Homo sapiens: one gene and its partners. The protein of the gene in region 3 interacts with the protein of the main gene of each other region in a biochemical or structural test. Each region holds a gene or a part of one and is shown on either strand. Other genes may lie near its edges. The genes, in order: SLC15A5, EZH1 and PDZRN3.

Region 1 (3,654 bases), on a different chromosome or scaffold from region 3:
ATGTATTAGAAGCAGATCCAAGTTTATCTTGCAACAAATAGTGATTGTTTATACAAAAAAACGGTTAGTGAGTTTAAAATATATTATATTTAATACAAATTCCTGAATTTTAAAAATTGGGGGGAAACTGGGGAAAATATCTTTGGAAATAATCTTTCATCCTGCAAGTACTTATCATTTAATAATCAAACCTATCTGAAAGCATAAAGTTAATTTGGATCAGTGTTCATAATAACCCTACTATCTACCCAGCACCACTCTGCAAGAGTTTAGCAGAGAACAGGTTGATGAGTAATAGAGACAAGATTGTAAGGAAATGTCAGGAAGTTAAGCCACCCAGCCCAGGCTTGTTCGAATTCAGTCTCCAGACTGTTCATCAACACATTCTCTGTTCTCATCTTACCTAAACCTTAAGTAAACTAATTGAAATAGCTAGGAAAGTCTCATAATAGAGCAGTTCATTCTCTAATAATAAAGAGCAGTCCCTATTACTTCTTTCCTAAGAGAAACAAATCTTGGCCTCTCACAGTGGCTTCTGTCTTCTTGGCCTTACCAGTACCTGGGCCTTCATCTACTTCAGGCAATAGTGACTAAGAAGAGACAAAAGTGACCATAGATATAAGCCTATCTCCTGTTAGCAAGTATCCCAACATACTCCCAGATGACCTAAACACACTTCACAAAGGCCACCAAAGAGCCACAGCTGTAATCATTCTTGGTCACTACCAATTTGGGCTGGATTTGATTCAGTGACTTAGAGGTGAAAGGCTCCATATTCAATTACCAGGCCCCCAGCTTCCTCAATTAATCAAAGGCTGACATAATGGGTCTATTACAACTCTTGAAGAAAAGACCAGATCAAATCAATCTAACCACTTTATAGCTATAAAAATATATTAATACATATTCTTTATTTAAACATAAAAACCAAGACTCTATGGCATATAAATGAATTTCATTAGAATGCATTTTATCTAGAATTTTATTATAGGAAACTTGAACATAATCAAAATGACTTTCAAACTATACTTTGAGTTTCTATAGCAGCCTTCTTTGGAGAAACACAAACATTTTCACATTTATTATGCCATTTACCTGGCAACAGTAGTTTGGTGTCTACGTAATTTCTGGGGGGATTTATCTGGTCAAAGGGAGTGCTATGAAAACCTGTAACTATCATGACAGCACAGCTGAACTGCTGCCTAAACGGGGGTCTCTTATCTGTCATTGTATCAGGAAATCCTAATGGAGTCAAAGAAAAGGTAGGAACTAAAAGATCATAAAAGAAGCAACAATGAGGTTGCAAATCACTAGCAGTAAGTGACTGCTGCCATCTGAAGCAATAAAGCGCTTCTGATCGTGCAGCAACAGCCATGTAAACCTAGAAGAAACTACTGGAAAAGTCAAAAGCCAACTAATCTAATCTGAACTCTTAATGACACTATCAACATGCATAAAATCATTTAGAGAGTTCATAGTCTAACCTTATTTCTAAATCCAAGGATAAAGTCAAAGCAGAGATTACATTTCCCTTCATCTCCATGTCACAATAAGAAGCCACCCTCTACCTGCCAAGTAAAATGAGGATTATTTATATAATAATTTATATGAAAAAATAGTACTAGTTCTTTGTGTTAAGGATGTTAAAGAAAGTTCAGTTTATTGTATTCATTAATGCATTAAAGTTAGAGACTTCTGAGAGATTCTGAAGTCCTTAACTTTGGCGTATTATTTTGTCACCTTTCTTTCCCTTTTAATATGTTTTCATTGATCTTACCTTTTACACTTTTGACATCAACTGCTAGGTGCCACCATGGGCTGGTCATCAGGATGCCAGAATCACTGTCAGAAGCGTGGTCCTTTGAGTCCGACCCCTTGGGTGCTAAAAACTTTCTCACTTCACTGCCGTGAATCCTTGAATCGTTATCTTTCTGATCAGCATCTTGAAAAACTGGAGAACAATTCCTATACTAATACATAATATCTCCGATTACTTGCAGGTTGTTCTCTCCTGACAGGCGTTGGGGTGTTGGTTAGTGCACTGAAAACATGCCACCCGCAATACTGCCATCTTGGCAGAGACGTGACAAGCCAGTTAGACCATGCCAAAGAAAAAAATGGTGGCTGCTACAGTGAGCTCCATGTAGAAGACACAACATTTTTCCTCACCCTTCTCCCTCTCTTCATTTTTCAGCTCCTATACAGAATGTGCATTATGCAGGTAAGGACAGGCGATGAGTACTACCCCAACAACAGGAAAGTGATTGCATGTCAACAGTGCAAGTCAAGGTGAATTTTCTCCCCAACGAGCGCTTTCCATATATGTCGGCAGGCAGTTATCCCCACAGAAACTTCTCATCATTACAGGCTCTGATTTCCAGAGCTAAGCGGGGTCAGGCAGAGGTATACCTGAGGAGACCCTGGGATGTGTTTCTTTTGTGGAGCTATAAATGTCTGTCAGTAGGTGCAGACAGTACTTCAGAATGCATAGTCGTAAGGCGTAAGAGCAGTGCACGAACATATCAGATCTGTAGGCAATTACCAAACTTCCCTTTAGCCAAAGGTTTTGCCTTCCTCCCTCATTAAACCTTTAGAAAGTGGTACTAACGAGTAGCTAAACTGACTGATTTGAGTACCACCTCCACTGTACTCTTAAATATAAGTACTAATGAGCAAGTGATTCTCTCCCCACCCACTCTATTAGTTCCTTGGGGAATTCGTTCCTGTGCTGTGAGAAAATCAAGAGAAAATACAAAGCCCAAAGTACCTTTTATAGATATATGTGATTTTAAATTTTTTTAATGTGGTTAGAGTTAAAGACTAACTTATTTACTGAGAAAAATAAATGATTACAAAAGTATTTGAACAAATCTGGGACTTTGTTCATTGCTAACTCCCAACTTGGAATTTAGAAGACTCATGAATGAGTTACATTTAGAAATCATAGAATAATAGAGCTGCAACAAAATTTAGAGATTAACTTCATAAACTACTTTATTTGTTAAACAGGAACCTTAGGCTCAGAAAAATTAAGTGACTTTCTTTTGGTAGAGGTGAGGCACCGTAGGTCACAGTTAATAGTAGTGTAAGGGAAAGCGGAATCTGTCCTCTGCCTCTCAGTACAGTGCTTGCCCCTCTAAACCAGGGGTTAGCCATCCACTATCTGAAGGCCAAATCCAGTCCACTATTTTTGTACATCCTGTAAGCTAAGAAGATTTTTACATTTTTATATGTTTGAAAAAAATTAAAAAAAGAATAGTATTTTCTAGCACATGAAAATTATATAAAATTTAGCCCAGCGTGGTGGCTTACACCTGTAATCCCAGCACTTTGGGAGGCCGAGGCAGGCAGATTACCTGAGATCGGGAATTCGAAACCAGCTTTACCAAAATGGAGAAACCCCGTCTCTACTAAAAATACAAAATTAGTCAGGTGTGGTGGCCATGCCTGTAATCCGAGCTGCTTGGGAGGCTGAGGCTGGAGAATCGCTTGAACCCAGGAGGCGGAGGTTGCGGTGAGCAGAGATCATGCCATTGTACTCCAGCCTGGGAAACAAGAATGAAACTCCATCTCAAAAAAAAAAAAAAGAGAAAAAGCAAAGAAAAATATATAAAATTTAAATTTTAGCGTCCATAAATGAAGTTTTATCAGAAC
Region 2 (3,654 bases), on a different chromosome or scaffold from region 3:
GTTTTTTCTCTTAAAGCACTGGTTTTTAGTTTTTCCTTTTCTTTGTTGGGGCTATTGGCCCTTTGTGGGGGATCTTTGAAAACTGTAACTATTCTCAGGAAAATACAGACAAGAACATTCTTGCATACAAATCCATAGATGGTTACGTTGAGAACCTGTGATCAGGGAAATAGGTATGAGCTCCAAAATGAAAGCAAAGGGCACTTCAGCTCATGGTTCTGTTTTTGTTTGTTTTTTTTTTTTTTTTTTAAGAGAGAGGGTCTCATACTCTTGGCCAGGCTGGAGTGCAGTGGTGCCATCATAGCTCAATGTAGTATAGAACTCCTGGGCTCAAGCCATCTTCCCACCTCAGCCTCCTGAGTACTAGGACTACAGGTACGTGGCTTTTTTTTTTTTTTTTTTTTTGTAGAAATGGGGTCTCACTTTGTTGCCCACACTGGTCCTGAAATCCTGGCTTCAAGCGATCCTCCCACCATGGCTTCCCAAAGCACTGGAATTCTAGGTGTGAGCCACCTTGCCCAGTCCATGGTTCTATTAATTGTTCTCAGTACAGGAAGCATGAAGAAGAGGCCACAGAGTCTCCTCCAGAAGGTAGGAAGCCAAAGCATTGGGGTTCCTTTCCTGTTGGACATGCTGGCCCTGACAGCTGCCTCCTTGTCCCTGTTCTTCAGTCTGTCTTCTCACTGTGGTCTTTTCCTGTCTTTTCCTGGGCCAATCACTTGAGGTCAGGAGTTTGAGACCAGCCTGGCCAACATGGTGAAACCCCATCTCTACTAAAAAAAAATACAAAAATGGCCAGGCACATTGGCTCATGCCTGTAATCCCAGCACTTTGGGAGGCCGAGGCGGGTGGATCACCTGAGGTCAGGAGTTTGAGACCAGCCTGGCCAACATGGTGAAACCCCGTCTCTATTACAAATACAAAATTAGCCGGGCGTGGTGGTGCACACCTGTAATCCCAGCTACTTGGGAGGCTGTGGCAGAAGAATCACTTGAACCTGGGAGGCGGAGGCTGCAGTGAGCTGAGATCATGCCACTGCACTCCAGCCTGGGCAACAGACCGAGACTCCATCTCAAAAAAACAAAACAAAAAAAATTAGCTGGGTGTGGTGGTGGGCACCTGTAATCCCAGTTGCTTGGGAGGATGAGGCAGAAGAATCACTTGAACTTGGGAGGCGGAGGTTGCAGTGAACCAAGATTATGCCACTGCACCACTCCAGCCTGGGCAACAGAGCGAGATTCTGTCTCAAAAAAAAAAAAAAATTAGCTGGGCATACTGGCCTGCACCTGTAGTCCCTTGCTACTTGCTTGGCTGAGGGGAGAGGACTGCTTGAGCCCAGGAGGCGGAGGTTGCAGTGAGCTATGATCATGCCACTGCACTCCAGCCTGGGCGACACAGTGAAACCCTGTCTCAAAGACAAAATAAAGATAATCTAGTGATAGAAAATGTGGAGAATAAAATGACTGAAGAGGCTGGCGGAGTGGTGGAGGGAGCAGCAGCTGCAGCAGCTGCAGCAGCAGCAGCAGTGTGCTCATTAACAAGAGCCACAGAAAGACCTGGGAGTCCCTTCTGGGAAAGGGGTACACATTTAGAAAGGAGGCCAGAGCCAAAAAAAAGAAGCGAAAGAGTGTAGGACCCAGAAGCATTAAATAGAGTCCAGACAGAAATGAGCATTCAGCAAGGAGGAGGCGGGTCCCCAAACATCATTAGGCCTGGCACTTGCAGAAGGGCCATGTTTGGGAAACTCACAGAAGCACAGGCTCATCAGGGACTGAACTTAAGACAACTTCTCTCCAGACCCAGACACACAGCCTGGTAAGATGGCAAAGGGCTGGACAGAGCAATGCGTGAAAGGAGGGGCCCATTTGTTCTGCTGCTTCCAGATGGTACCTGCTTGCACGTCTTGGTCCCCAGAAGCCTGGCTATTGAACAGAAGTTGTTGAAGTAGGTGCCATGGAAGACTCGAAAAAGAGATTCTTCAGCCCCAGTCCATTCCACAGGCTCCGAGGGTGCTTCCACTACGCAGAGTTGAGGTGGGGCTGGACTAGCCTTCTGTTTTGTGGGAGTCTGACAGCGAGAGTTAGCCTCTGAGAAGGGAAGAAATAACAGAATCAGAAGAAGGTAGAATGCAGTTGTCATCAGTAGTTTGTCACAAACTCAGAAGTACTTCATTCTACTTTAAAAGGTAGAACAGTTAGGAATGAAAATATTCCCTATCTTTAGGCCAGGCATGGTGGCTCACGCCTGTAATCCCTGCATTTTGGGAGGCCGAGGTGGGTGGATTGCTTGAGCTCAGGAGTTCAAGACCAGCCTGGGCAACATGGCGAAACCCTGTCTCTACTAAAAATACAAAAATTAGCCAGGCAGGGTGGCTCACGCCTGTAATCCCAGCACTTTAGGACGCCGAGGCAGGCGGATCACCTGAGGTCAGAAGTTCAAGACCAGCCTGGCCAACATGGCGAAACCCCGTCTCTACTAAAAATATAAAAATTAGCCGGGCGTGGTGGCAGGCACCTGTAATCCCAGCTACTTGGGAGGCTGAGGCAGGAGAATCGCTTGAACCTGGGAGGTGGAGGTTGCAGTGAGCCAAGATAGCACCACTGCACTCCAGCCTGGGCAAAAAAGCGAGAGACTGTTTCAAAAAAAAAAAAAAAAAAAAAGAAAATATTCCCCATCTTTACTGTTTACAAAACTTGTAGAAAGAATTTATAATTTTTAAGAGGTAGTAAAGTTAAGTGTCAGGCAGTGATCCTGGGTTTACCAGAGTCCTTGCATGGAAAGAAAAAGTCTTCATTTTCTGTTCATCGTACCTGAAGAACTGGAGGCCCAGTCATTGCCTGTGTCCCTGTCACTGTCTCCTTCTTTAGTCTCAGCCACAGCAGAGGCTGAGGCATTGGAGCAGGAAGCACTGACTATGTGGTGCCTTCTCCGGCGACGACCAGAGCACTTGGAGCGGGGGTTGTGGAGCATGGCATACTCCTTTGCTCCTTCCTGCAGTGGACACATTACAGACAGGAAATAGGAACAGGCCCATCACCATATTGATCTCATCATCACAAACTTTCATCTTTACAACATCTGTCTACAATAATAGTGTCTTTTCTTTTTCTCTGTACCATATAATAAGTATGATCATATAACAATGAGAGCTGCTTAACAAAACTTACGTACTTTTTCACAAAAGAGTTGTCCTATAATGTTTTTTTGTTTGTTTGTTTTTTTGAGACAGGGTCTCTCTCTCTTGCCCAGGATGGAGTGCAGAGGCCTGCTCACTGCAGCCTCGAATTCCTGGGCTCAAGTGATTCCCTTGCCTCAGCCTCCCAAGTAGCTAGGACCACACGCACATGTCACCATGCCCAGCTAATGTCCTATAATCTTAAAAAAGATATAATCTATGCATCTGTGTCTTCAATTTTCCAGTGAGTTGTATCTAAAATTAACTTGCGTGTTACTTGTTTGGAATTTGAGAACACATTCTCCTATGGATGAAGAAATGAGATTCAGAGAGGGGAAGAAACTAGCTTGAGAGTATGCAGCTAATAGTTCCAGAGGGGTATAGGAATCAGGGCTCCTTGTCTCCCTAGGCCACTATTCTTTCCAGTCTACCACACTTTCTCTGTTTCCTTAATAAAATGTGTAATGCTTAATCTGTAC
Region 3 (3,654 bases):
GAGTACTCTAGGGTAACCATTCAAAGGGGCTAGAGATGGAGAATGCCCTTATTCTGGTTGTTTAAGAAGAAACGAAAAGCTAATGTCTAATGGTCCTAATGGCTTGTGAGCTCCTTAAGGGCAGGCAGAGTGGTGACTTCGTGATTTTGCATTTCTAGGGCCAAACAGTATATTTAATGTAAGAGACAATAAAATGAACAGAATTGAAAATAAACACGAATATAAAGTCTGATGGCATCCAAGGTCTAGCTTAAAATATTAATACCAGACTAGTTTTCTAAACACCTGCGTTGTGTCTGCTTTTATTCATGAAAAGAGAGAAGCAGTCTTAGGAACACAGTGTCACATGCCTACGAGGGGCTCAGTCGTTCCTAGGCCCTGATAATGTTACACTGCAGGGACAGTGTGGACAATATTCGTGACTTGGCGGCACATCTCGACACTGCAGTGAATGAAAGGCACCACAAAAGCCTCGCTGGTGTGACTCAAGAGAACAAGAGGAAATGATAGCTTGGGCTGCTTTATCTGGGTCTGTGGCCTGTAGGTCAGGGGTCCTCTGGCTTTAATGGGCACCGAGGTACCTAGGAACCTTGTTAAAGTGCAGATTCTGATTCTGAAGATCTAGGGGGCCAAGTTTCTGTAGTTCCCACATCTCCTAGGTGAGAACTCTACTTTGACCAGCCAGGCTGCTGGTCCTCCTACCACACTTTGAACAACAGGGTTCTAGGGAACAGTTTCTGAGTGGCTCCCTCCTGCTGAAAGCAGGATGCTCTCAGGTGCTTCATGCTTTGAGGAGAAAGACTCAGTCTGGGCTAGTCTTAACACTTCTTTAATACTAGCTAATCTCCTTAGAGAAAAGGCAGGATGTAGTGGCCCCAGGCTCCCAACCCTCAGCAGGCACCCTTATTGAGCACCAGGATTTAATAAATAACACTGGCTTGTGTCCACTGTATTTAATTGTATGGGATTTTCTATTTAAGGCAATGGATGCTGACTTTCTGCTTGACGCAGTGGTATAGTGTTTCCTTTAAAATAAAATTACCGTAGTTTAAATAAGTTGAGTCGAATTAAAGAGAAATAGAAAGCACGTAAGAGTTCTGGTGATAGTCAGGTATAAGGAAAAACTGTAAGGCAGAATGGCCCAAATTGGGCAGATACTGTGGGGGCTCAGTGAATCTCCTGAAACCATATGCAAGCTCTCACAGACAGGAGCATTTTTCCAGAGCGGGGGGCTGTAGGTTCCATCAGATTCTCAAAGGTATTAGAAACTAAAAAAAGAACTAAAGAACCCACTGCTACAAAGTCAAGTTTAACTAAATACCAAAGACTACAAAGTCTCTACTACTTCATAACTCTAGCTTCTGAAACACTTTACAGCTTTTTAAAAGAACTCTACTTTGCCACAATTACATCATCAAAAAGCAGTGTCGTCCCATAAAGATTACGAAATAGCCCTCTGTTTGGAGAGCAGTGTTTCTCCAACAGTGTTCCAGAGAACTGTAGACTGAGGAAATATAAACAGGTACTTGGCCAGAGAGGTGGGGGAAATTCTGCCCACTCCCCCAGGGGATTCTAGGTAGATAGTCAAGATTCTCAGAAGTCCTCCAAGAAATCTGTTTCGTTGTCTTCAGTCTGGCATTTCCCAAATGTATTTCATTATGAACCCCCTTTGGAAGGAACATACATAACAAATTAAGGAACAAGTGTCCTGAAGGAGTCACGGCTGCTTCACCAAACAGCCCTGAAGCTGGGGTGATAGGACACTAAATAAGAGGCAGAATCCTGATTTTTGAAAATGACAAAACTACATTTTCTGGAACAATTGTTAAATGGCAAGCGCTTTGGTAAGTGGCTGACAGCAAGCAGAAACAGTCAAGTTTTTATAGTGAGAATACTGGCCATTGCTGTTTAGACCAGGTGCATTTAGGGAAAATTTTAAATTTCTGAAAACTGGCACAGAGTCAGTCATGCCACTGGCAACAAGTCCTTTGATTTGACTGTATCTGGCTAACCATCAGTGAAGTCATCGTTTGCACACAATTATTGATTTTTAACTTCTGTCTTGGAATGAGAACTCTTGGTAACTTTAAGTTGAGGAACATAGCTGTTTTCTACTATTTGACTGCTTCTGTCCTTGCACAGAACCTACTGCCACTGAACAATTCAACTTCAGAAGTATTGGTAGGACAGCATAGATTACACAACAGTTAGCCATGAAATTGGATAAAATGTTCGATTTTTCCTGGGTGACCTTTTGATGGTACCCAAGGGCTTACCTGTCAACATCAGGTGTCTTTTTACCTTATTCCATAAAATCAGCTTTCAAAAATGCTGTTATATTTTTTGAAACCCCATTGAAATATAAAAGTGTTTTCCCCAAAATATAAATATATTATACAAGTTAGTGTTTTCTGTATTTTCTATCACCCTTAATAAAAGGAAAATGGGAAGTAGAACTCTGTTGGCAACCTGGTGTCCTCTAAATATTTTAAACCTTAACAGAGACCTATTTGACATTATGTAGCATCTTGAATCTTTATTCCTGTGTGGCCTCAAATAACACTTAAGAAGAGTTGCAGACTTGTTTAATTTCTTCTGTATCAATGTTAGCAAACTTGAAGCAAGTGAAGCAGTGAACAAACCCTTTTGTTAGGGCGGGCTAGCATTCACTCAAGTAATTTATCCACCTACTCTTGAGCCATCTGCCTTTGAGTAAAGAGTGGTGATGACATAAAAGGGAGGAAGGTGAGGAGGCTTATGTTAGTTACAAGAATGTATGGATTATGTGGATTCAAAGGTTGACAACAGGATTTACTGTCCTAACTTTTAAGTGATTCAAATTAAAAAAAGTTTACATTTCTGCTTTTGGGACTTGATTATTAAGCTCTGTTTCCAAGGAAGGAAGAAGAATCTCAGTTGTGCCTTTCAAAGGGCATCAGTAAAAGTGGTTCTGCTTTTGTTACTTTCCATCGGCATCCGTAAACTAATTTATGCTTATAGAGAACTTATTAGGCATTCTGTGTTCTTAATAATGACTCCTAAAATGAGACAAGGATGTTCTTCATACCTCCAGCTCCAGCTCCTCCCTGTCCATCTCCTGATGGATGTCTCCAATGTAGTCATTTGGATCGTAGTATTCATGGGCTGAGGGATGCCTGAAAAGAGATGCAACATCTTTACAGCCCTTCTTCCGTTGTCAGTATCTGTTTTTCTTACACCCATTGTCAGGCCAGTGGCACAGTAGCAATTCCCAGGGTGTGGGCCCTTTCATGACTCACTTCCCTCTGGATGGGGCTCTCAGCACGGTCAGGACCTCCATCATCCTAATTTTACCATTTGCCTTTAGTACATTTCCTCCTGAAGGACTTAAGATGCAAAGTGCAAGCCTGATGGGCTTTGTTGTTTGCAGAGCCCATCCCGGAGCCTGCCAGTCACGTGATTCAGCGTGACTGATTTCTAACTCCATCTCTACGCAGGAAACAGGACAATATTTTACTGCTTATTGCTTCATTGTTAGATTTTATCTCTGCAGAGAACTAGGCTCGAGCCCAGGCAACAGTCTAAGATATGTGCTGGCCTCTGAGATCAGTTCAAAAGGCTGAGAATGAAACTGTTCTGCTGTTACCTAGGACCGTGTCTTTTTGAATGTTACCC

The links.
Region 1: the proteins of PDZRN3 (region 3) and SLC15A5 interact in a test that uses a peptide from one of them, tested with the Homo sapiens proteins (one large-scale study listed by IntAct).
Region 2: the proteins of PDZRN3 (region 3) and EZH1 interact in a test that uses a peptide from one of them, tested with the Homo sapiens proteins (one large-scale study listed by IntAct).

What each region holds. Positions count from the first base shown.
Region 1 is NC_000012.12:16,243,147-16,246,800, reverse strand, and holds part of SLC15A5 (solute carrier family 15 member 5), read left to right. Parts: intron 1-1,777; exon of another isoform or gene 1,778-1,970; intron 1,971-2,000; coding exon 2,001-2,221; intron 2,222-3,654. UniProt on the Homo sapiens protein: Proton oligopeptide cotransporter.
Region 2 is NC_000017.11:42,710,399-42,714,052, forward strand, and holds part of EZH1 (histone-lysine N-methyltransferase EZH1), read right to left. Parts: intron 2,992-3,654; coding exon 2,811-2,991; intron 2,088-2,810; coding exon 1,891-2,087; intron 1-1,890.
Region 3 is NC_000003.12:73,397,855-73,401,508, forward strand, and holds part of PDZRN3 (E3 ubiquitin-protein ligase PDZRN3), read right to left. Parts: intron 3,156-3,654; coding exon 3,068-3,155; intron 1-3,067. UniProt on the Homo sapiens protein: E3 ubiquitin-protein ligase. Plays an important role in regulating the surface level of MUSK on myotubes. Mediates the ubiquitination of MUSK, promoting its endocytosis and lysosomal degradation. Might contribute to terminal myogenic differentiation.